4 linked regions of the Homo sapiens genome follow. The protein of the gene in region 2 interacts with the protein of the main gene of each other region in a biochemical or structural test. Each region holds a gene or a part of one and is shown on either strand. Other genes may lie near its edges.

Evidence for each region.
Region 1: the proteins of HNF1A (region 2) and CDX2 form a complex in vitro, tested with the Homo sapiens proteins (one study listed by BioGRID).
Region 3: the proteins of HNF1A (region 2) and PCBD1 form a complex in vitro, tested with the Homo sapiens proteins (one study listed by BioGRID).
Region 4: of the proteins of HNF1A (region 2) and DYRK1B, one has a biochemical effect on the other in vitro, tested with the Homo sapiens proteins (2 studies listed by IntAct, with this or other methods).

What each region holds. Positions count from the first base shown.
Region 1 is NC_000013.11:27,960,400-27,966,336, reverse strand, and holds the end of CDX2 (homeobox protein CDX-2), read left to right. Parts: intron 1-1,297; coding exon of another isoform or gene 1,298-1,321; coding exon 1,322-1,467; intron 1,468-2,967; coding exon 2,968-3,222; 3' UTR 3,223-5,419; downstream 5,420-5,937.
Region 2 is NC_000012.12:120,973,529-120,981,545, reverse strand, and holds the start of HNF1A (hepatocyte nuclear factor 1-alpha), read right to left. Parts: upstream 3,004-8,017; 5' UTR 2,778-3,003; coding exon 2,452-2,777; intron 1-2,451. UniProt on the Homo sapiens protein: Transcriptional activator that regulates the tissue specific expression of multiple genes, especially in pancreatic islet cells and in liver. Binds to the inverted palindrome 5'-GTTAATNATTAAC-3'.
Region 3 is NC_000010.11:70,883,002-70,885,596, reverse strand, and holds the end of PCBD1 (pterin-4-alpha-carbinolamine dehydratase), read left to right. Parts: intron 1-364; coding exon 365-445; intron 446-1,548; coding exon 1,549-1,647; 3' UTR 1,648-2,087; downstream 2,088-2,595. UniProt on the Homo sapiens protein: Involved in tetrahydrobiopterin biosynthesis. Seems to both prevent the formation of 7-pterins and accelerate the formation of quinonoid-BH2. Coactivator for HNF1A-dependent transcription.
Region 4 is NC_000019.10:39,824,839-39,831,190, reverse strand, and holds the end of DYRK1B (dual specificity tyrosine-phosphorylation-regulated kinase 1B), read left to right. Parts: intron 1-407; coding exon 408-527; intron 528-627; coding exon 628-816; intron 817-1,163; coding exon 1,164-1,311; intron 1,312-1,388; exon of another isoform or gene 1,389-1,475; intron 1,476-2,607; coding exon 2,608-2,894; intron 2,895-3,534; coding exon 3,535-3,681; intron 3,682-3,765; coding exon 3,766-3,906; intron 3,907-4,203; coding exon 4,204-4,519; intron 4,520-4,904; coding exon 4,905-5,011; intron 5,012-5,104; coding exon 5,105-5,476; 3' UTR 5,477-5,841; downstream 5,842-6,352.

The sequences.
Region 1 (5,937 bases), on a different chromosome or scaffold from region 2:
GTTCCCTTTACTTTCATAGCAGGCGCGGGGTCGGGGCCGCAGCCCCATTCAAATGCGCCTGCAGGGTCGTGTTTATGTTAATGCGCCTGGCGGGGAGGGGGATGAAAGCCGGGGCCGCCATTTGCTCAGTAGTGGTAATTCAAACAGAATGTGGTTGTTATTAAGGCATTGAAAGGGCTTTTCTTTGATAAGATCGCCTTGTCCTGCATTGTTTGCGGCTGTGTTGGCCTTTCAGCGGCTCGGGGGAGCTCCCTCTGATCAGGCCTGTATCTTCCCAGGACGCTTTTGTTGTGGTTTGCAAAGGGTTTTACCTGAACAAAGTCAGCCTGCGGGGCATTAAACACCTCCAGGCAACTCCCAGGCCCTTCAGATCTTTCTGTGGGATTGGGCACTGGGCGATTGAACCTGTTCAGCTGCAAGAAGACCCAAAAGTGGGACGGAGCCAGAGAGAACAGCTTCTGGCCAGGGCTCTGCCAAGGGCTGAGCCAAGACAGACCTGGTGGAGACGCCAGGCTCGGGCCTGCTCCAACATTGTGGACACTATTTGTCAAGGCCCTTCAGTAAAACAATCAATCTGGGATTTAATATGTTGACTCAATCCAATGAGCATAGATCACTGGTCAGGATAACTCTGGCCGGATTTGCAGCAGGAATAAATGGAGGATCAAAAAAGAAAAAGTACCAAACGCCAAACCTGGTCTGGGCAGGTATAAAGTGTCCCCAGCAGGAGGGGTTTTCTGCCTGTTCCCTCGGCCAGAGCCCAGCTCAGAATTCCACCTGATGGGCCTGGTGTGTCTGGGGGATGATTCTGGCGACTTGTCAGCTCCTGAGCCCCGCTTTCCACTTGTAGTAAAGCAAAGTAGTAACCCCCACACCCCCTCTACAACATGTGCCCACAATGACAGCTGTTTTCGGGGTGGGCTTCCATCTCTGGTAGGCCTGGAAATCTGGATGCTTCCAGGATCCCGGCCACTTCACCCTGCCCCCTTTCCCTTGGTGTCAAATATATGCCAGTACTGTATTTGGTTTACCGAAAGGGTGGTTACATTCTGCTGTCTTCTGTGTGAATGAGGTTTTCACTTTCCTTAATTTTTAAAAACCACTTAATACCAAGGTTAGTTTAGTTGCCTCCACTAGCCTCATACCCTCCCCCCACAGGACCCTCTGGGGGGTCTTGTCAGACTTGGCAGGAACCAGCCAAACCCGGGCCCCCCAGGGTGGTGGAGGAAGAGAAATGTCCCTGGGTTAGGGAGGTTTGTCATTACCCATGACTGATGGGCTGCCTTGCAGTTCTCAGCCCTCACTTCTCCTTCCTCCACAGTGAAAACCAGGACGAAAGACAAATATCGAGTGGTGTACACGGACCACCAGCGGCTGGAGCTGGAGAAGGAGTTTCACTACAGTCGCTACATCACCATCCGGAGGAAAGCCGAGCTAGCCGCCACGCTGGGGCTCTCTGAGAGGCAGGTGGGGACCGCCTAGCTCCCTCCGGGCGGGCCACTGCCTGGCAGAGGACCATGAGAGTTAGAAAATCTGGCTGCAGGGGCCATCTAAATCTGTGGAGAGACTGAAGCAGGAGGATGCAAGCATTCGTCTTTGGAGTCCTTTTTTTTTTTTTTTTTTTTTTTAAACAGAGATGGGGTCTTGCTTTGTGGCCCAGGCTGGAGTGTAGTGGCACAATCATAGCTCACTGCAGCCCTGACTTCCTGAGCTGAAGGGATCCTCCTGCCTCAGTCACCTGAGTAGCTTGGACTACAGGCTCGAGCCACCATGACTGGCTAATGTTTAAATTTTTTGCAGAGATGGTCTCACTGTCTTACCCAGGTTGGTCTCAAACTCCAAATGCTCCTCCTGTCTTGGACTCCTAAAGTGCTGAGATTACCGGTGTGAACCACCATGCCTGGCCTGGAGTACATGCCCCCCCACCCGCCACCGTCGAAACGCAGTTTCACTCTTGTTGTGCAGGCTGAAGTGCAATGGCGCGGTCTCAGCTCACTGCAACCTCTGCCTCCCGGGTTCAAGCGATTCTCCTGCTTCAGCCTCCCAAATAGCTGGGACTACAGGCATGTGCCACCACGCCCGGCTAATTTTGTATTTTTAGTAGAAATGCGGTTTCTCCATGTTAGTCAGGCTAGTCTCGAACTCCTGGCCTCAGGTGATCCACCCGCCTCGGCCTCCCAAAGTGCTGAGATTACAGGTGTGAGCCACTGTGCCTGGCCCTGGAGTACTTTTTTAAAAAGCCTCCTTCTACCTTTAGTCCTCTTTTTTTGATGTTGTTGATTTTTTCTGTCTCTCTCTTTTGAGGGATATAAGAAGTGTGAAAAACAGCCAAGGGTATTAGTTTAATCCAGAATTCCATTTGGGTCTATAAAGACATATTAAAGACCTATTCTCTTTGTTTCCAGCACTGTACCTAAGAAAATAAACTGAATAAAGTACTCAGTCTCTCACAAAAACTAGAGGGACAAGACTTGGTTCATGAACATTTTATATATATAGTCTAGAAAAACAGGCCAACTTCACAGCCAGGAAGCCACAAAATTAAATCTCATTTTCAGCTCTAAGGTGAGGAAAATTACGTTTTAGTTTAGCCTTGAGGGGCCAAAGGTTGCCATTTGAAGTATACCACCCAGCACTGGCCTCCCTTTGCTGTGTAGAAAGGGCCTTGCAGTTTCAGTTTTCCTTGGTTCTGAGACTTTAAACTTTTGCAGTAAATACGTAGATAAAAGTTGCTTTGAAAAGAAACTCAGGGAGCAAGGAAGGAGGAAGACTCTTCCCCATGAGGCTGAATTGGGCCTAAGAATGGATCCAGGGTTGGGCTGTTATGGGGATGCCCGAGGAAAGCTTCTAGAAGGACTTGGAGTTCTGTAGCTGGAGCAGAAGATGTTGATGATACTGCTGGGTACTGTTCCTCTTTTCCCTCACATCTTCACCACAATGTGCTTTTCTCCACCTTTCCATTTCTAGGTTAAAATCTGGTTTCAGAACCGCAGAGCAAAGGAGAGGAAAATCAACAAGAAGAAGTTGCAGCAGCAACAGCAGCAGCAGCCACCACAGCCGCCTCCGCCGCCACCACAGCCTCCCCAGCCTCAGCCAGGTCCTCTGAGAAGTGTCCCAGAGCCCTTGAGTCCGGTGTCTTCCCTGCAAGCCTCAGTGCCTGGCTCTGTCCCTGGGGTTCTGGGGCCAACTGGGGGGGTGCTAAACCCCACCGTCACCCAGTGACCCACCGGGTTCTGCAGCGGCAGAGCAATTCCAGGCTGAGCCATGAGGAGCGTGGACTCTGCTAGACTCCTCAGGAGAGACCCCTCCCCTCCCACCCACAGCCATAGACCTACAGACCTGGCTCTCAGAGGAAAAATGGGAGCCAGGAGTAAGACAAGTGGGATTTGGGGCCTCAAGAAATATACTCTCCCAGATTTTTACTTTTTCCCATCTGGCTTTTTCTGCCACTGAGGAGACAGAAAGCCTCCGCTGGGCTTCATTCCGGACTGGCAGAAGCATTGCCTGGACTGACCACACCAACCAGGCCTTCATCCTCCTCCCCAGCTCTTCTCTTCCTAGATCTGCAGGCTGCACCTCTGGCTAGAGCCGAGGGGAGAGAGGGACTCAAGGGAAAGGCAAGCTTGAGGCCAAGATGGCTGCTGCCTGCTCATGGCCCTCGGAGGTCCAGCTGGGCCTCCTGCCTCCGGGCAGGCAAGGTTTACACTGCGGAAGCCAAAGGCAGCTAAGATAGAAAGCTGGACTGACCAAAGACTGCAGAACCCCCAGGTGGCCTGCGTCTTTTTTCTCTTCCCTTCCCAGACCAGGAAAGGCTTGGCTGGTGTATGCACAGGGTGTGGTATGAGGGGGTGGTTATTGGACTCCAGGCCTGACCAGGGGGCCCGAACAGGGACTTGTTTAGAGAGCCTGTCACCAGAGCTTCTCTGGGCTGAATGTATGTCAGTGCTATAAATGCCAGAGCCAACCTGGACTTCCTGTCATTTTCACAATCTTGGGGCTGATGAAGAAGGGGGTGGGGGGAGTTTGTGTTGTTGTTGCTGCTGTTTGGGTTGTTGGTCTGTGTAACATCCAAGCCAGAGTTTTTAAAGCCTTCTGGATCCATGGGGGGAGAAGTGATATGGTGAAGGGAAGTGGGGAGTATTTGAACACAGTTGAATTTTTTCTAAAAAGAAAAAGAGATAAATGAGCTTTCCAGATTTCAGATTCTGTATTTATCTTCAGATTTTGTCTGCAACTATTTTTTATTTTTTAAAGAAATGAAATATCTTCTCTGCTTGCAAGCTGATTTGGAAAATTCAGAGAGGGAGTGGAGATTATCTGGACAGCCTCATTTTACCCCAGAGCATCAGAAGCCTGAAAGAGCAGGTTCTGAGACCTTCCCTGCCCCCAAGCCTGAGCCCAGCCTTGGAATGCGTGGCTCTCCTGGGGGTGCCTTTGGGCAAAATGCACATCTGAATGGCCAGGTGCTTCCCAGCAGTCAGAAATTATGGGGGGTGGGGGTGAGAGGGCCCCCTCATAGCATCTCACCAAATCCACATGGAGGCTTTTTGCAAACAGCAGGCAGTTCCCTTCTGCAGTGACTCCCTCCTAAGGACGCCCCACAACCCAGCTAGTTAAACGTGAGCATTAAATTTTTTTTAAAAAAAATCCCCCTAGTTTCCCAAGACAGCATTTCCATGAATTTAGTCTTCTGTAAATCACTGGGCATTTCCGTGAGCCCTTTCTGCCTCCACTCTCTTCTCTGTCTTTGCAGTTTCCTTATCCCCGACCGCGCCCCCCCTTCCAACCCAATCACCCCACAAACAAGATTTCTAGACCCAGTATAAAATGATCCTTTTAGTGACAGTTTCTTGTTATCTGGCCGATCCACTGGGGACCGGGCTGCAGCCTTTAAAATTTTTGATCCTGGAGGCCGCCGAGCTGAACTTTCCGGCAGGACCCGGGCGAGGGGGGCTTAGCCCTTCGTTTCGATCTTCCCACCAACATCCGAGAGCCTAATCAGCGCGCCCACGGAGGCGCCTTAAGGGCAGTTGGGGAAGATGAGCAGAGCCGGGAAACAGCAAGAGGTATAGACCCTCTGCAGCACCTCTCCAATTCCGCGGCCCTTCCGGGTGGCGTATACAGCTCCAGGATTGGGAAAGGGGCTCCGGTGGCCCGGCCCGCGGGCGCCTGGCCTCGAAGCCAGAGGGAGGAGTGCGGGGCGTGGGGTCGGGGGGTGCCGGGCAGAGGAGGAAGCCGTGTCCGGGTCCGCTGGGCGAGGGGTCCTGGGTCAGGGGTCCTGGGTCAGGGCCGGTCTGAGCCCCGGTGCCCCGCAGGTCTCCCCGCGCCCCGGCCGCGCCCACAGGCCCGCCCCCTAGCCGCCGGGGTTGCTATGCGTTGCCGTGAAACGCCTGTCAATAAACCCTGTTTGGACAGTGGAGCAAGAGCACATGGGTTGTTTGCTTAGTGGTTAGAGGTTCAAAAGTCGACATTGTCCCGCTGCAAGCGATTACAAGTTCTTCCCCTTCCCGGGGCTCGGTCCCCTTGCACGCGGGTACGGGGCCAGGGAAGGGAGCTCGGCTGCTCTCTGAGATGCAAGCACCCGGCTCGCTGCTGCGAGCGCCTGGCAAGCCTCCCGGGCCACGGAAAAAGGCGCAAAACCAAGACCCTCTCCGGCAAGTGAGGCCACCGCGCTTCTAACGCCAACTGTGTCACCCCCGAAGCAATACCTACGGAACAAGGGATGTGGCACGAGTAGGGAGCGCAGCTTGAGGAGTGTAGGGAGGCCTGCACAGGGGCGCCTGAGGTTGAGACCGGATGACCTCGCGGCTCCTGACGCCTCCAGCGCAGAGCTTGGGGTCCCGGCCTCCGAATCCCACGCCTCCACCGCGTCCAGTCGCCGGTTCAGGCGCCAGAGGGCGCGCGCGCTCTGGGAAGAGATGGGGCTTGGGCTCGTGA
Region 2 (8,017 bases):
CAGCAAAGGCCGAGAGGAAGAGAAAGACCTGGGAAGAGATCCAGGAATTTGGTGGGGTGGAGGGAGGGGAACGAAACCAAGGCAGGGAGTTTGGACTTTATTCCTTGGCCAGGGAGGGAAACTGAGGCAGAAGGAGAGGAACAGACTTTCCCAAGGTCACTCAGGGAGCTAAGGGGGAGATCTGAAGAAAGAGCTCAGGTTCCTGCTGTGGCCACCAACATGGGGCACCCCAGGGAGGCCTGGGACCCAGGACCCACCCCGGCTTCTTCCCAGACACTGACTTCTCCCGGGAAACAGCTTCTACTAGACATTCTGCCTCTGTACCGTCTTCCCAGCCTCAACCTCCCCAATGGCCCAGGCCTTCAATAGGGGTCCCCCGCCCCTCTCTCCCTGGCTCCTTTCCTGACCCTGACGCTGGAGGCCCCACTTTTTTCACTCAGGGCGTTTTCCGATCCCTTTTGTTACCTGAACAATAAGTAACCCAGGTAGTTAGTTATAAACTCTGCAGGAACAAGGAGCTGGTTGATAATTTATAGCAACATCTCAAATTTAAATGGAAAGTAAATAGCATGCTGTTAGCATTAAAGAAAACCCAATCGGGGCAGGCGGGAAGCACTCCAGCCTCCTTGCAAGCTTGGGGCGCCTCATTCTCTCCCGTGCCCCTTCTCCCAGCTGGGTCTGAGCCCCCGCCCCCCTGGCTCCTCCGTTCTGCTTCTCCCAGCTTCTCTGTCCATCTCCCCCAATGGCCTCTCTCTACACTCTCTGCCTCAGCTTCCAGGTCTCTGCTGGTCCCTAGGAAGCACTTTGACCTCTGCTTCCCCTTCAAATGCTGTGGATCAAGCCTCCCCAACCCCACCATCCCACCAAAGGGGGCTGCTGACCGAGAGAGCTCACTCAGCCAGGTAAGAAAGCATCCCCTGCCCCCACCCTCACCCCAAAGCCCCCAGTCCCATCTGGGGCCCTGGGCAGGTCAGGCCCAGCCCCACCCCGTCAGGTTGCCTTCGCCCTGGGTCTGGGATGCCTGACTCTTTGCCCCTCCCCTGCAGCTCTGGAGTCCTTTGCCCTCCTCTTCCTGCCAAGTCAGGGGGCCCTGACTGCTCCCCTGCCCCCTGTCCAGGCCCTCGGGAGGCTCCCTGAGGCCTCTGGGAAAGCAGGAATCCACCAGCCCTCCCCCACCCCAGCTGGGATCAGGACCTTGGACAGAAAAGAGATGGGCCCCTTTGGAGCATCTTTGGGGCTCGGTCTCTCTCTGACTCCCTGGCCACCCCCTGCAGGCCTCTGGTCCCCGGTCATAGCAATTGAGAGCACCGAACAGAGTAGGTTTGGGGCCTCAGTTTGGTGAACTTAGTCTAGCTCCTTCCCGGCTCTAAGCCCCAGTTTCCCCATTTGTGAAGCAGAGTCACCAATAGCTTCTGCCCAGGACTCCTCACCATGAAGGGAAATTATTCCTGTGAAACCTCAGCACAGCGCCCAGGAAGTAGTGAACCTCCTCAAGCAGGCGCTGTAGGGTGGAGGTCAGGGAGCCGCTGGGGAGGGGTGGCCCCTGTAGCCCCCAGGCCATCCTTCCTTCTCCCCCACACCCCCATCCCCCACCCCCACTAGGTGGGAGGTGGGTTGGCCCAGATCTTTCCAGGCCACCATTCCTACAAGTTAATGATCACAGACCTTATCAGAGCCTTTTGCCATTTATAAATTTATAAAACAAAAGAGAAATAATAAAGCACATGGGTAATTAGTAACTAGGTCAGCTCTGCTGAGGAGAGGGGAGGCATCGAGCTCAGGACCCACCCAGTTCTCCAGGAGACGGGGAGTCCGCCAGCGGATGGGGATGTAGAACGGGCAGCCTCTAATGGCGCCTGCTGGTGAGGTGGGGTGCCTGTGGCCATACAGGAAAGGGGAGCAGCTCCCACCTCGAGGCTCTGTCTGCCTCAGGTAAGAAAGACCTGGGCTTCCCTGGCTAAACGCATGAGTCCCTAGGAGGCCAGGAAAGCCCCCAAACCCCAGCTTCGGGCCCTCCTCCCTGGCAGTGCTTCCTGGGCCCCGGAGCCTACCCACTGAGGACTCAGTGCAGGAGTTAGGGTCTGGAGAGTATAAATGATCAGAGTGGCTAAAAATTTCCACCACCTCCCAGTTCTCCAGGCATTTGAGTTGTGAACTCACCTGCTTTTTCTCCCATCTTGGACCCCCCTGGGAAATGTCCCCCTTGCCCAAGGACTGGGCTAAAGGCCTGGGCTCATGGGATTTGGGACTCTGCAGAGGAGCAGTTCAGGGGCTGGAGGCTCAAACCTCCAAGCAAGGACCCCTGGGCTCTCATGGGCCCTGTCCCCCTTCCCAGCAACTAGGCTAAAGGCTGAAGGTCATGGGGACTCAACTCAGAAGGGGGGCTCGTTAGGAGCTGAGGGGGGCCCCTCTAGGCTCTCCTGGGAGCGGGGACGGGGCAGGGCTCCTTACTGCAGAAGGGTCTCCACCACGGCTTTCTGGTGGGCCGCCTCCTCAGGGCTGAGGTTCTCCAGCTCTTTGAGGATGGGTGGCGTGAAGTCTTCCCCATCGTCGTCCGTCTCGTCCTCGGAGCCCCGAGTCTCCCCCAGCCCATTGGGCAGCTCAGCCAGCTCCCCTCGACCGCCGCCGCAGGACTCCCCCTTGTCCAGGGGGCCTTCTCCAGCCAGGAGGTAGGGCCCCGGCTCACCCAGTGCCTGGATCAGTGCCTCTTTGCTCAGCCCTGACTCGAGCAGGGCCGCCAGGAGCTCCGTCTGCAGCTGGCTCAGTTTAGAAACCATGGCTCGGCTGCCACAGGGCCACGCGGCCCGGGTCCACCACGCTAGCCGCCTCCCCCACCGCGTGGGTTGCGTTTGCCTGCCGGCCGGCAGACACAAACCAAACTCCTTGCACCCACTGCCCCCCCAAAACCCCACTAGCCAAGCCCTGTGGGCACCCCCAACCCCCAACCCTGGCCCCAGCGGCCCGTGAATCAGGGCCCCTGCCTGTTCTGTTTACATTGGAGCTGGGGAAATTCTCCAAGGTTCATATTTATCCGTGTGCTTAGCGAAGGGACTGAACTTTGGACTTCAGCCCTGCAAAGTGCAGGCCTCATGGCAGCGGAGAGGGACAGGGAGCTATGGCCTGCGATGGGAGTGGGCAGAGGGGAGGGTGGGGGAGGCGCAGGTGAGGGGCCCTGAGCAGCTGGGATGGAAGGTGCTGGGAGCCAGGGAGGCCATCAGGAGAGCAGCGTTGGGTCCCACCCCCGAAAGAACCTTGTAGGGGCATCATGCTGAGACAGGAGAGCCAAAAATGCTTGCTGCTTACGAGAGCGGCAGCAGCAGGGAGCTCTAGACAGCTGGGCTAGCTCTTCTCAAGGGCAGAGGATGCTCACGGCCATTTTGGGGCCCTTCCATCCATTTTGGGACCCTTCCACCCCACTCCCGGCCTGACACCAGGCCTCCCTGTAGGAAAAAATATGTTAAGATTACCATGTGCCAAGAACAGTGCTGGCTCTGTGAGGGCGAATTCACTTCATTGCATTCTGCTACCAACTGTGAGCAGTTACAGAGATTATCCCCATTTTATAGAGGAGGAAATCGAGGCTCTGAGCGGTTAAGTAACTTGTCCAGGGTCATACAGCCAGCAAGGCAGAAAACATGCAAGGTGAGACTGAGTTGGGATGAGTGTGACACTTGCCTCAGGTGCAAATTTATTTTTTTATTTTTTGAGCTATGTTCTCACTTTGTCACCCAGGCTGGAGTGCTGTGGCGCGATCATGGCTTACTGCAGCCTTGACTTCCTGGGTTCAGGTGATCCTCCCGCCTCAGCCACCCAAGTACCCAAGTAGCTGGCACTACAGGCACGCACCACGACACCCAGCTGATTTTGTGTGTGTGTGTTGTGTGTGTTTGGGTTGTGTGTGTGTGTGTTTTTGAGACAGAGTCTCACTCTGTCACCCAGGCTTGGAGTGCAGTGGAGCAATCTTGGCTCACTGCAACCTCCGCCTCCCAGGTTCAAGCGATTCCCCTGCCTCAGCCTCCGGAGTAGCTGGGATTACAGGCACATACCACTACACCCGGCTAATTTTTTTGTATTCTTTATTGAGTTGGGGTTTCACCATGTTGGCCAGGCTGGTCTTGAACTCTTGACCTCAAGTGATTCGTCCGCCTCGGCCTCCCAAAGTGCTGGGATTACAGGTGTGAGCCACTGTGCCCGGCCTTGTGTGTGTATTTTTTGTGGAGACAGGGTCTTGCCATGCTGCCCAGGTTGGTCTCAAACTCCTGGACTCAAGCCATCCGCCCACCTCAGCCTCCCAAAGTGTTAGGATTACAGGCGTGCGCCACCATGCCTGGCAGCCCAGGTGCAAATTTTAAGGGAATGCCAAAAAACCCAGTCATCAAGGTAAATAACATTTTTATGCAATATGTTTTTAAAATTAAAATGAATGCAAAACCCCAAAGAATTAAAAACAGATGTCTATACAAAAACTTGTGCGTGAATGCTCATAGCAGCATTATTCACAAGAGCCAAAAAGTGGAAAAAACATAAATATTCATCACCTGATGAATATATAAACAAAATATGGCTTGACCATGCAATGGTATAGACATATATATTTTTTTCTTTCTTTTTTTTTTTTTTTGAGATGGGGGTCTCGCTCTGTTGCCCAGGCTGGAGTGCAGTGGTGCAATCTTGGCTCACTGCAACCTCCGCCTCCCGGGTTCAAGCAATTCTCCTGCCTGAGCCTCCCGAGTATCTGGAACTACAGGTATGTACCACCACGCCCAGCTAATTTTTGTATTTTTGGTAGAGATGGGGTTTTACCATGTTGGCCAGACTAGTCTCGAACTCCTGACCTTAGGTGATGCCCTCGCCTTGGCCCCCCAAAGTGCTGGGATTACAGGCATGAGCCACCGCATCCAGCCAATGCAATGGTATATTATTTGGTCATATAAAGGAATGGAGTTCCAGTACATGCCACAACATGCATGAGCCTTGAAAACATGATGCTAAGTGAAAAAGTGGTCACTAAAGACTACATAGTGTGTGAGTCCATTTATCTGAAATGTCCAGAACAGGCAAATCCATAGAGACAGGAAGTGGATTTGTGGTTGTCAGGGCCTGGGTGGGAGAAGGGAATGGGGAGTGGCCACTCCATGGTGCTGGGTTTCTTTAGGATGATAAAAATGTTCTACAATTGATTGTGGTGATATCGGACAACTCTGTGACTTTATTAAAACCCAATGAATTGCACATTTTAAAAGGGCGAGTTTGATGGTATGTAAATCAATAAAAATATTGTTGTAGCTTTATTGAGATATACTTACCATACAATTCACCCATTTCATGTGTGCAATTCTGATTTTTTTTTTCATTTTTATTTATTTTTATTTTTTGAGACAGGGTTTGGCTCTGTTGCCCAAGCTAGAGTGCAATGGCATGATCTGGGCTCACTGCAACCTCCGCCTCCTGGGCTCAAATCATCCTTCTACCTCAGCCTCCCGAGTAGCTGGGACTACAGGTGTGCACCACTGCACCCAGCTAATTTTTTTTTTTTTTTTTTTTGTATTTTTGGTAGAGACGGAGTTTCACCATGTTGCCCAGGCTGGTCTCAAACTCCTGGACTCAAGAGATCCTCCCATCTCAGCCCCACAAAGTGCTGGGATTACAGGTGTGAGCCACCATGCCCGGCCTCAAAAAATATTTTTTAACTAATGTAAAATAATCTGTGCTGAACAAAATAGCAAACATCTAAATACAGGCCCTGTGGCCAGGCACAGTGGCTCATGCCTGTAATCCCAGTACTTTGGGAGGCCGAGGTGGGTGGATCACCTGAGGTCAGGAATTTGAGACCAGCCTGGCTAACATGATGAAACCCCATTTCTACTAAAAATTTAAAAAGCTGGGCATGGTGATGCACGCAGGAGGCTGAGACAGGAGAATCACTTGAACCCAGGAGGCGGAGGTTGCAGTGAGCCGAGATCACGCCATTGCACTCCAGTTTGGGCAACAAGAGCAAAACTCTGTCTCAAAAAAAAAAAAAAAAAAAAAAACAGGCCCTGCCCTCACCCACCAGCCACATGTGGCTACCAAGCACTTGAAAGATGGCTAATGTCACTTCTTGAAATGATAATTTTTAAAAAATATATTGAGTTAAATTTTTAAATTAAGAAAATTTTGGCCGGGCGTGGTGGCTAACGCCTGTAATCCCAGCACTTTTGGGAGGCCAAGGTGGGTAGATCACCTGAGGTCAGGAGTTCGAGACCACCCTGACCAATATGGTGAAACCCCATCTGTAATAAAAATACAAAAATTAACCTCAGGAGGCTGAGGCAGGAAAATCACTTGAACCTGGGAGGCGGAGGTGGCAGTGAACCAAGATCATGCCACTGCACTCTGGCCTGGGTGATACAGCAAGACACTGTCTCAAAAAAAAAAAAAAAAAAAAAAAAGACAATTTAAAAGTTAACATTTAGGCCGGGCGCGGTGGCTCACGCCTGTAATCTCAGCACTTTGGGAGGCCGAGGTGGGCGGATCACAAGGTCAGGAGATTGAGACCATCCTGCCTAACATGGTGAAACCCCGTCTCTACTAAAAATACAAGAAATTAGCCTGGCGTGGTGGCGGGCGCCTGTAGTCCCAGCTACTTAGGAGGCTGAGGCAGGAGAATGGCGTGAACCCAGGATGCGGAGCTTGCAGTGAGCCGAGATCGCGCCACTGTACTCCAGCCTGGGCGACAGAGCGAGACTCCCTCTCAAAAAAAAAAAAAAAAAAAAAAAGTTAACATTTAGAATAATTTTAAATTAGATTTAATTAAAATATTATTTATATATTATACAAATATAATGTTATATTTAGTTTAAAATAATTTGGTTTAAATTAAAATTTTATTTATAAAAATAACTTTTTATTTTAAAAATTAAAGAAAATAACTTCACCTGTTCCATTTTACTTTTTATTTTTTTAAGAGCCAGATTCTTACTCTGTCACCCAGGCTGGCATGATCATAGCTCACTTCAGCCTAGAACTCCTGGCTTCAAGCAATCCTCCCACCTCAGCATCCCAAGTAGCTGGAACTACAGGTACGCACCATCATGCCCAGCTTCATTTATATATTTATCTTTTTTGTTTGTTTTTTGAGACAGGGTCTCCTTCTGTCGCCCGAGCTGGAGTGCAGTGGCACAATCTTGGCAAACTGCAACCTATGCTTCTGGGGCTCCCGTGATCCTCCCACCTCAGCCTCTCCAATAGCTGGGACTACAAGCGTGTGCCACCATGCCTCGCTAATTTTTGTATTTTTTAGTAGAGACAAGAGTTTGCCACATTGCCCAGGCTGGTCTCAAACTCCTGAGCCCAAGCCATCTGCCCACCTCGTCCTCCCAAGGTGCTGGGATTACAGGGGTGAGCCACTGCACCCTGCCTATTTATTTACTTTTCTTAGAGATGGGGGTCTTGCTTTGTTGCCCAGGCTGGTCTCGAACTCCTGGGCTCAAGCAATCCTCTCACCTCAGCCTCCCAAAGTGTTGGGATTACAGGCATGAGCCATCTCACCTGGCCAGTAATGTATTTCACTCCAAGAACAACTCATGAATTAGGAACTGTTATAATCCCCCTTCTGCAGGGGAGGAAAGAGAGGCTCAGAGAGGTTAAATGACTGCTCAGAGTCCCTCAGAGCTGGGCTTTAAGTCCACCTGAGGCAGGCGGACGGGCTGTGCAGGACAAGTTGGCAGCCCCCGCCTTAAGGAGAGTGGTACCCTCTTTCCTCCAGTGCATTTATGTTTTATTTTTATTTTTGAGACAGAGCCTCACTTTGTCACCCAGGCTGGAGTACAGTGGTGCGATCTCAGCTCACTGTAACCTCTGCCTCCTGGGTTCGAGCAATCCTCCTACCTTAGCCTCCTGAGTAGCTGGGACTACAGGCACACACCACCATGCCTGGCTAATTTTTGTATTTTTGGTAGAGACAGGGTTTCACCATGTTTGCCAGGCTGGTCTCAAACTCCTGGCCTCAAAAGATCCACCCACCTCGGCCTCCCAA
Region 3 (2,595 bases), on a different chromosome or scaffold from region 2:
GAGGATGTGTCTTGGGCTCTCCCTTCCTGGAACTTTTAGCAGCAGTCTTCTGAGGAGATAGTTCAAGTGGAAACCATGCACATCTGAAGACATTTGAACAGACGGCCAAGACTGGCCAGGCCAAAAGCCTGTTGTGGTGTTTCCACCTTGTTGACATCCTAAATAGCAAGACTTTCTTCCTACTGCAAGGACAATCTCTAACTCAAGCCTGAGAACCAGTGACAGGATGTCAAGGGGGAAATGATTATAGAGGAGTCTCCTGGGGGGAAGCTAATTCATCCTCCTGCGTCTAGGCCTTGAATTGGTGATGTCCAGAAGTCCTTTCTCTTAGAACACTAACCTGGCTCTCACTCCACTTAAATAGGCCTTTGGGTTCATGACAAGAGTGGCCCTGCAGGCTGAGAAACTGGACCACCATCCTGAATGGTTTAACGTGTACAACAAGGTGAGTGATGCTGTGTGCCTCTGTTGTGCTCTGCCCCCATCCAAATACTGCGAACTCTGACACATTCTGAAGGCTTTTGGACTTAACAATGAGCCTTCCTGACCCATAGGTCATCCACTCATCTCATTTCCAATCTCACTGAGATTGCACATGCCTAGAATCAACATAAATACCCCTGGGAAAAAAAAATCAGTCTTACTATAAAGAAATGCAAATTAAAAGATGCATGAGATAGTTGTGGTTAAAGTAGACATTTAAGTAGACATTAAGAAGGCAAAACCCAAGAAAGGAAAGGCTGTGGGAATCAGGCATACTTATTCAGTGTTCATAGCTCTAAATGGCTTTAATCTTGCTGGAGGTATGGAAGAATGAAAAAGTAATAAACTTGAACTAAGAATACACACATATTTGGGAGGCCGAGGTGGGCAGATCACGAGGTCAGGAGATCAAGACCCTCCTGGCTAACATGGTGAAACCCTGTCTCTACTAAAAACACAAAAAAATTAGGCGGGCGCGGTGGTGGACGCCTGTAGTCCCAGCTACTGGGGAGGCTGAGGCAGGAGAATGGTGGGAACCCGGGAGGCGGAGCTTGCAGTGAGCAGAGATTGAGCCACTGCACTCCAGCCTGGGAGACAGAGCAAGACTCCGTCTCAAAAAAAAAAAAAAAAAAAAATACAGACACATAGCCAACCTATCAAATTATTTGCTTAATGAATAGAAACAGTCATTAAATGTCTACCATGTGCCAAAAGCTCTGCTGGTCTCTGTTTATAAAAACAGTAAGGGTGGAAGAGGTCGTCTATGAATGGATAGTGTTTAGGAGTTGGCATTGGTTTTTGGTTTTGTCTTTAGCTTTTAGGTTGCTCTTGACATTCAGATATTAAGCTTTTATTCTATAGCTGAAGTCATGATTATTTTTGAGAGACAGCAAAGGGGAGATGTAGAAGATGTTGTTACAGACATGTCAGGAAGGAGTCCCCAGGAGAGATCGTACTGGCCAGCTGCTATTCTGGAGCTCCTAGCAGGGCTGAGCCCAGCAGCTAGTGACTCCCTCCTGTTCTTAAGTGAAGTCAGTGGAAGCAGAATTTCTGGTTTCATTTCAGGTCCACATCACGCTGAGCACCCATGAGTGTGCCGGCCTTTCAGAACGGGACATAAACCTGGCCAGCTTCATCGAACAAGTAGCAGTGTCCATGACATAGACCCTGCCCTTCCTCTTTGAATTCTTCCGGGGGAAGGGGTGACTGAACTGGGAGTCCAGGGAGGGAGCTGAGGAGCCCTTACCCTCCCACCACTCCCCTCCCAAGACCCAGCCGCCGCCGTTGAGGGCTGAGTCCTTGCTGTGGGATGTGCCAGTGTCCCCACCAACACCAGGAATTTAGACCTTTTCCCTGCACCACTCTCTTCATCCTGGGGGCTCTGTTACACTAATTTGAATAAACTCTCCCCTTTCTTTGCAACTTCCCAGCAACAATAATGATTTTCTTGCCAGGCCGTCTCTTGCTCCCTAATTCATTTCCCAGGAAGCTGTGATACAGGGTGAAATAAAGTCTTGTCTTAGAAACCAGGACCCTAAACCCCACACTATGTAATAGAAACACATGTGTTTTTATGTCTCAAATAAAACTATTATATCACTTGGTCTCAGGCTCTAGAAACTTCTTTTCCACAGGTCAATCCAAATTGGAGTCAATAGGCATTTAAATGAAAGCACTTCCTCTGTGCTAGGCACTTCCTCTGTTCAAGGTACTGGAAAATGACAGGGACCAGACCACCTTGCCTTCAGATTCATTATCATCTAGGGGATACCATTTGATTATCATCAAACAGGAACACAATTAACTATTACCAATTACCAATTAACTAGTACTAATTAACTATTACTAGAGTGAATTAATGCTAGGTGGCAGGATAAGAAATGAGCTAAAGGGAACGCAAGTGATTAATGGTGAAAAGGGCAAATCTGGAGGCTTTGAGTTATGCCTTGAAGACCTGGGTAGGATTCTTGGGAGGCAGAGATGGCTGAGAGAACACCATGAACACAGATAAGGGTGTGAAGGGCACAGGTATTATATGCATTGTGGAACCTATGTCTAGAAAGGCAGTCTGGGGCCATATTACAGGTTGAACATCCCTAATTTGAAAATTGG
Region 4 (6,352 bases), on a different chromosome or scaffold from region 2:
GAGGCCCAAGGGATGAGGGTAAATTGAGATAGAGGTACTTCAGAGGGTACCCAAAATGGCTGGCTTCAAAGTGAAGAATGGGGAGGAACAGAGCCCAGGTTTTCCATATGATCTCTCCCTCTGAGGTTCAGAAAGGAGTAAAGGTGAGGGGTGAAAGGTCAGAGTTCACTCATTCACACCACAGATCTCTAAGAGCATCCATTGTGTGCCAGGCCCTGCTGTAGGCACTGGAGGTATAGTAAGAACAAGAGAAAGTCTCAGCCCTGGGGGAGTTTCTTTCCTAGACAGGTGGAACAAATACAGACAGCAACCAAATACATGATGTGCCAGCAGCCCTTACAGTTCTTCCTCTTGAGGTCGGAGGTGAAGGCACGTCCTCAGTGCCCACCCCTCACCCTGCCCTGCAGGTATTGCCTGATGTGCGGCTACTGCCTCGGAGGCTGCCCCTGGCCTTCCGGGATGCAACCTCAGCCCCGCTGCGTAAGCTCTCTGTGGACCTCATCAAGACCTACAAGCACATCAATGAGGTGGGCAGGGGCTGGGGGATCCTGGGCTGGGTGCCGAGGGTCTTGTCTGCTGGCATGAGTCACTCACCAGTCCCCATCTCCTGGCTGGCTGGCTGGGCAGGTATACTATGCGAAGAAGAAGCGGCGGGCCCAGCAGGCGCCACCCCAGGATTCGAGCAACAAGAAGGAGAAGAAGGTCCTGAACCATGGTTATGATGACGACAACCATGACTACATCGTGCGCAGTGGCGAGCGCTGGCTGGAGCGCTACGAAATTGACTCGCTCATTGGCAAAGGCTCCTTTGGCCAGGTGTGGGACACCCCCCACCACCCTGATCCAAGGCCCCACTAACATTGATCACACACCCAGTGGTTCAGTGGCTTCAAGTCCCATGCTGGGCCACTCACCCTAGCCCACTTAGTTTCCCTGTGCCTCAGTCGCCTTTTCTGTAAAACAGTTTAAATAACAAGACTCAACATAAGGTCGTTATGTTATTTCACATCCAGTGTTTACACCAGCGCCTGACTAATGGTGCGCACTCAGCTGCGAAGTATGCATAGTGTTCTTGGTGGGTCTCCTTGCCTGGAGGGAGAAGAATGGTGCCTGGCTCTGCCCTGCTCCCACCCCTTTCTTCGTGACATGCCCTGCCCCAACAGGTGGTGAAAGCCTATGATCATCAGACCCAGGAGCTTGTGGCCATCAAGATCATCAAGAACAAAAAGGCTTTCCTGAACCAGGCCCAGATTGAGCTGCGGCTGCTGGAGCTGATGAACCAGCATGACACGGAGATGAAGTACTATATAGGTGAGGCCTGGGACTGGCAGGGCTGTGGGCACCTGGGATAGCGGGAGCTGGAGCCAGTAGGGATGGGTCACACCCCCGCCCTACTCTCAGGAGGAGGCTGATGTCTTCAGAGCAGGGTTTGGTCTGTGCTTCTCTGACATCAGTGATTCTCCTGCTGCTTTTATGATTTTTGTCCTATTTTCTTGGTAATGGTCAGAGGTTACTGAGTGCTCACCAAGGGCCAGGCTCTCTTGGAAGCACTTGGAAGTTAACTCACCACAGCCCATAAGGGGAAGGGCATTATTAACAACATCTTGAAGATAAGAAACCTGGGCTTCCATCCTAGTTTCTTCTTCAATAAAACAAACAAAACGGGCTGGGCACAGTGGCTCACGCCTGTAATCCCAGCACTTTTGGAGGCCGAGGTGGGCGGATCATGATATCAAGAGATCGAGACCATCCTGGCCAACATGGTGAAACCCCGTCTCTACTAAAAATGTGAAAAAATTAGCTTGATGTGGTGGTGCGCGCCTGTAGTCCCAGCTACTCAGGAGGCTGAGGCAGGAGAATCGCTTGAACCTGGGAGGCGGAGGTTACAGTGAGCTGGGACCACGCCACTGCACTCCAGCCTGATGACAGAGCGAGACTCCATCTCAAAAAAAAAAAAACCCAAAACAAACAAAAAACCAAACCTAATAACAACAACAACAGTTACAACAACAACAAAAAAAAACGAAGAAAGGAAAAAAGAAACTCAGGCATTCAAGTGCTGTCACTTGCATGAGGTGGCAGTTTGTACTAATTGAGCTATAATTTGATGAGGTCGTGGACTCCAGAGCTGTTACTCTTAACATCTGTGCCAGTCTTTCTCCTCCCTTAAACTGATTCCTGCTCATGGACATAAACATCACAACATAATCATAAACAGCAAGTGGATTTTAAAATGGTTTCGTTTGAAAGGAAAACGTATATCCTTAAAGTAAACGGAAAACCAGTGTCCTTTGCCACAAAAATGAATACAAGGGAGATGAAAGCAGTGTTATGAAATTAAATGAGGAAGTGTAGAATGTGTTAGAGCTAGTAGTAACTAATGAAACTTTCTCTTTGGTTTAATTGGAGGGTTTGACAGAGACTTGGAAAGAGCATTAACTTCCTGTGTGAATCTAGTTGTTAGATAAAAAGATTTTGACTAGCAGATGGTACCCGTGGGGACAGCACAATGTGGCTAGTAATCAAAGAGCGTTGTATGACCCCAGGCCACCACCTGCCCTCTCTGAGCCGTTTCTTCTCTGGCCCATTTCCTCCCCTCCCCCGCAGTACACCTGAAGCGGCACTTCATGTTCCGGAACCACCTGTGCCTGGTATTTGAGCTGCTGTCCTACAACCTGTACGACCTCCTGCGCAACACCCACTTCCGCGGCGTCTCGCTGAACCTGACCCGGAAGCTGGCGCAGCAGCTCTGCACGGCACTGCTCTTTCTGGCCACGCCTGAGCTCAGCATCATTCACTGCGACCTCAAGCCCGAAAACATCTTGCTGTGCAACCCCAAGCGCAGCGCCATCAAGATTGTGGACTTCGGCAGCTCCTGCCAGCTTGGCCAGAGGGTAGGGGGCGGCCCGGTCCTGGGAGCACGGCTAGTAGTTTGGGTGGGGCAGAGCCAACGGGAGGCTTAGGGGCGGGGCTTGGCTGGGATGGGATTATTAGGAGCCGTGGGAACTGAGGGATAATGCTTGGGGTGGGGGTGTGAATATACTGCCCACTAGGATGGGAAGGGTGAAGCCTGAGGGGCAGGGCCCATTTTGAAGCTGCCAGATGTGAACAGGGTGAAGTTGGGTTGGGTTTGAGCCAGGGGTGCTGCCTCGCTAAGTTTTTGTCTTCTCTGTTCTTAAAGCTGAGGATGGAGGTGGAAGGCTTCAACTTTGCAGCTCTGTATGAGCTGCCACTAAAAGTGACGATGGTATAGGGCTTATGGAATGTCAGCCTCTGCCTGGTGACCCAGAAGGGCCCAGGATCCGGGTTGGGGGTGGAGATCAGGGTCTGTCTAGGCCAGCAGACTCCCCAGATTGATAAACAAGATGGCACCAGTGGCTCCCAGAAAATTGGTGCTGATAATGGCAGGATTTGGAGCCTCAGTCCCCATTTTGTCAGCAAGAAGCCTGTCCTCAGTTGGGTCCTCTTAGCTTTGGGGGTGTCAGTGGGACCAGTAGGGGAGGCTGGGTCCCTTGACGATTACCCTTTTCCCAGATCTACCAGTATATCCAGAGCCGCTTCTACCGCTCACCTGAGGTGCTCCTGGGCACACCCTACGACCTGGCCATTGACATGTGGTCCCTGGGCTGCATCCTTGTGGAGATGCACACCGGAGAGCCCCTCTTCAGTGGCTCCAATGAGGTGTGCCCCCAGGAAGGGGTGTGCTGGAGGTGGAGGGGGTGGAGCCTGGCTGGCCTGATGACCTTGACCCCTGCCTGCTCACAGGTCGACCAGATGAACCGCATTGTGGAGGTGCTGGGCATCCCACCGGCCGCCATGCTGGACCAGGCGCCCAAGGCTCGCAAGTACTTTGAACGGCTGCCTGGGGGTGGCTGGACCCTACGAAGGACGAAAGAACTCAGGAAGGTGCGGCCCCTGCCCCATGCCACTCCTCCCACCCCGTGGCCCCTCACTCACACTTGGGGCTCTCTCCCCCTGCTCCCTCTCCCTTGTGTCTTTCCCTTCCTTCCACTCCCCCTTGTCTGTCCTTTCCTTCCTCCCCTGCCCACCCCATCTCCCATCTCTCCTTCCCACCCCACAACTCTTCTTAGCTTTTCTTTCCACTTTCTCTCTTGTGCCTCTGTTTCCCCGTGTGTGTCTCCCTGCCCCTCCTGCCCACTGACGGCCACTCTCTTGCCCCCCCTCCCACCCCCTCCCTGCCAGGATTACCAGGGCCCCGGGACACGGCGGCTGCAGGAGGTGCTGGGCGTGCAGACGGGCGGGCCCGGGGGCCGGCGGGCGGGGGAGCCGGGCCACAGCCCCGCCGACTACCTCCGCTTCCAGGACCTGGTGCTGCGCATGCTGGAGTATGAGCCCGCCGCCCGCATCAGCCCCCTGGGGGCTCTGCAGCACGGCTTCTTCCGCCGCACGGCCGACGAGGCCACCAACACGGGCCCGGCAGGCAGCAGTGCCTCCACCTCGCCCGCGCCCCTCGACACCTGCCCCTCTTCCAGCACCGCCAGCTCCATCTCCAGTTCTGGTGGGTGCCCAGGTGCCCAAATGGGGTACAACGGGTGGGGGCTGCTCAGGTTTGGCCTGTCCTGGGGGACCTGGTTACTGGGTCTTCACACAAAGCGCCGAAACTGATCCTGAACTGTAAGATGACGTGTGGGATGGGAGAGCTCCAACTGGCCCTGACACAATCACTGAAATTGGGCTCAGAGCCCTGAAACTGGTTCTGACTCTAAAACCCAAAACTGAATTCCAACCCAGAATCTCAGAATTGGGCCCGGTGCTTCAGATGGGCTCTGCTCTTGAAGCCTGAACCTGAGCCTGGGCCGTGACCTTCCCTCAGCCATCCCAAAACCCACTCGCCACCTTCTCTCACCTTATGCCCCTTCACCTCTCCTCCCTGGCACTTCCAGGAGGCTCCAGTGGCTCCTCCAGTGACAACCGGACCTACCGCTACAGCAACCGATATTGTGGGGGCCCTGGGCCCCCTATCACAGACTGTGAGATGAACAGCCCCCAGGTAATGGGGCTTTGGGGGCTTTGGAGGTGGGTGGTGGTGCCTGGGGCTTAGAGACCAGGGTCTCCATCACCCATGGCTCCTTTGCTTTTTTAGGTCCCACCCTCCCAGCCGCTGCGGCCCTGGGCAGGGGGTGATGTGCCCCACAAGACACATCAAGCCCCTGCCTCTGCCTCGTCACTGCCTGGGACCGGGGCCCAGTTACCCCCCCAGCCCCGATACCTTGGTCGTCCCCCATCACCAACCTCACCACCACCCCCGGAGCTGATGGATGTGAGCCTGGTGGGCGGCCCTGCTGACTGCTCCCCACCTCACCCAGCGCCTGCCCCCCAGCACCCGGCTGCCTCAGCCCTCCGGACTCGGATGACTGGAGGTCGTCCACCCCTCCCGCCTCCTGATGACCCTGCCACTCTGGGGCCTCACCTGGGCCTCCGTGGTGTACCCCAGAGCACAGCAGCCAGCTCGTGACCCTGCCCCCTCCCTGGGGCCCCTCCTGAAGCCATACCCTCCCCCATCTGGGGGCCCTGGGCTCCCATCCTCATCTCTCTCCTTGACTGGAATTGCTGCTACCCAGCTGGGGTGGGTGAGGCCTGCACTGATTGGGGCCTGGGGCAGGGGGGTCAAGGAGAGGGTTTTGGCCGCTCCCTCCCCACTAAGGACTGGACCCTTGGGCCCCTCTCCCCCTTTTTTTCTATTTATTGTACCAAAGACAGTGGTGGTCCGGTGGAGGGAAGACCCCCCCTCACCCCAGGACCCTAGGAGGGGGTGGGGGCAGGTAGGGGGAGATGGCCTTGCTCCTCCTCGCTGTACCCCCAGTAAAGAGCTTTCTCACATGCCTGCCTGAGCGTTTGCAGGGCCTCGGCTCCCCTCACCCGACCCTCAGAGGCATGGTGGGGAAGGGGGTTTGCGGAGGGGGTGCTGGAGGAGCTCTGGTGTGGAGACGTCTCGTGGGGAAGCTGTGGCGCGTGTTGCAGGCATGAGTCTGCAGGTCTGGGGCATCAGCATTCTAGATAGATCGTGGACAGGATCCTGGCCTACATTTGCCTTTTCCTGGGTAAATAGACCCTGAAAGGGTAAAGGTTCAGCTCTGGCCTGTCTCTGGGAAACAGGTGCCCTAATAAGCCGGGGCGTCCGCAGACTTAGCACAAGAGTGGCTCCTCATGCCAAGCAGGCGTCCAGTAGCAGCTGAGTACACTTAGGAGGCTTTGTTGGTGCCATCTGGGGAACAGGCAGACAATAGGTACAGACTCTGTCCCCACGTGTACTGTCCAGCTCTTTGGAATCATCGCGAAACAAAGAGTTTTGAGATTCTGAGACAAAAAGATTTTCCCGGGGTTCCAGGTA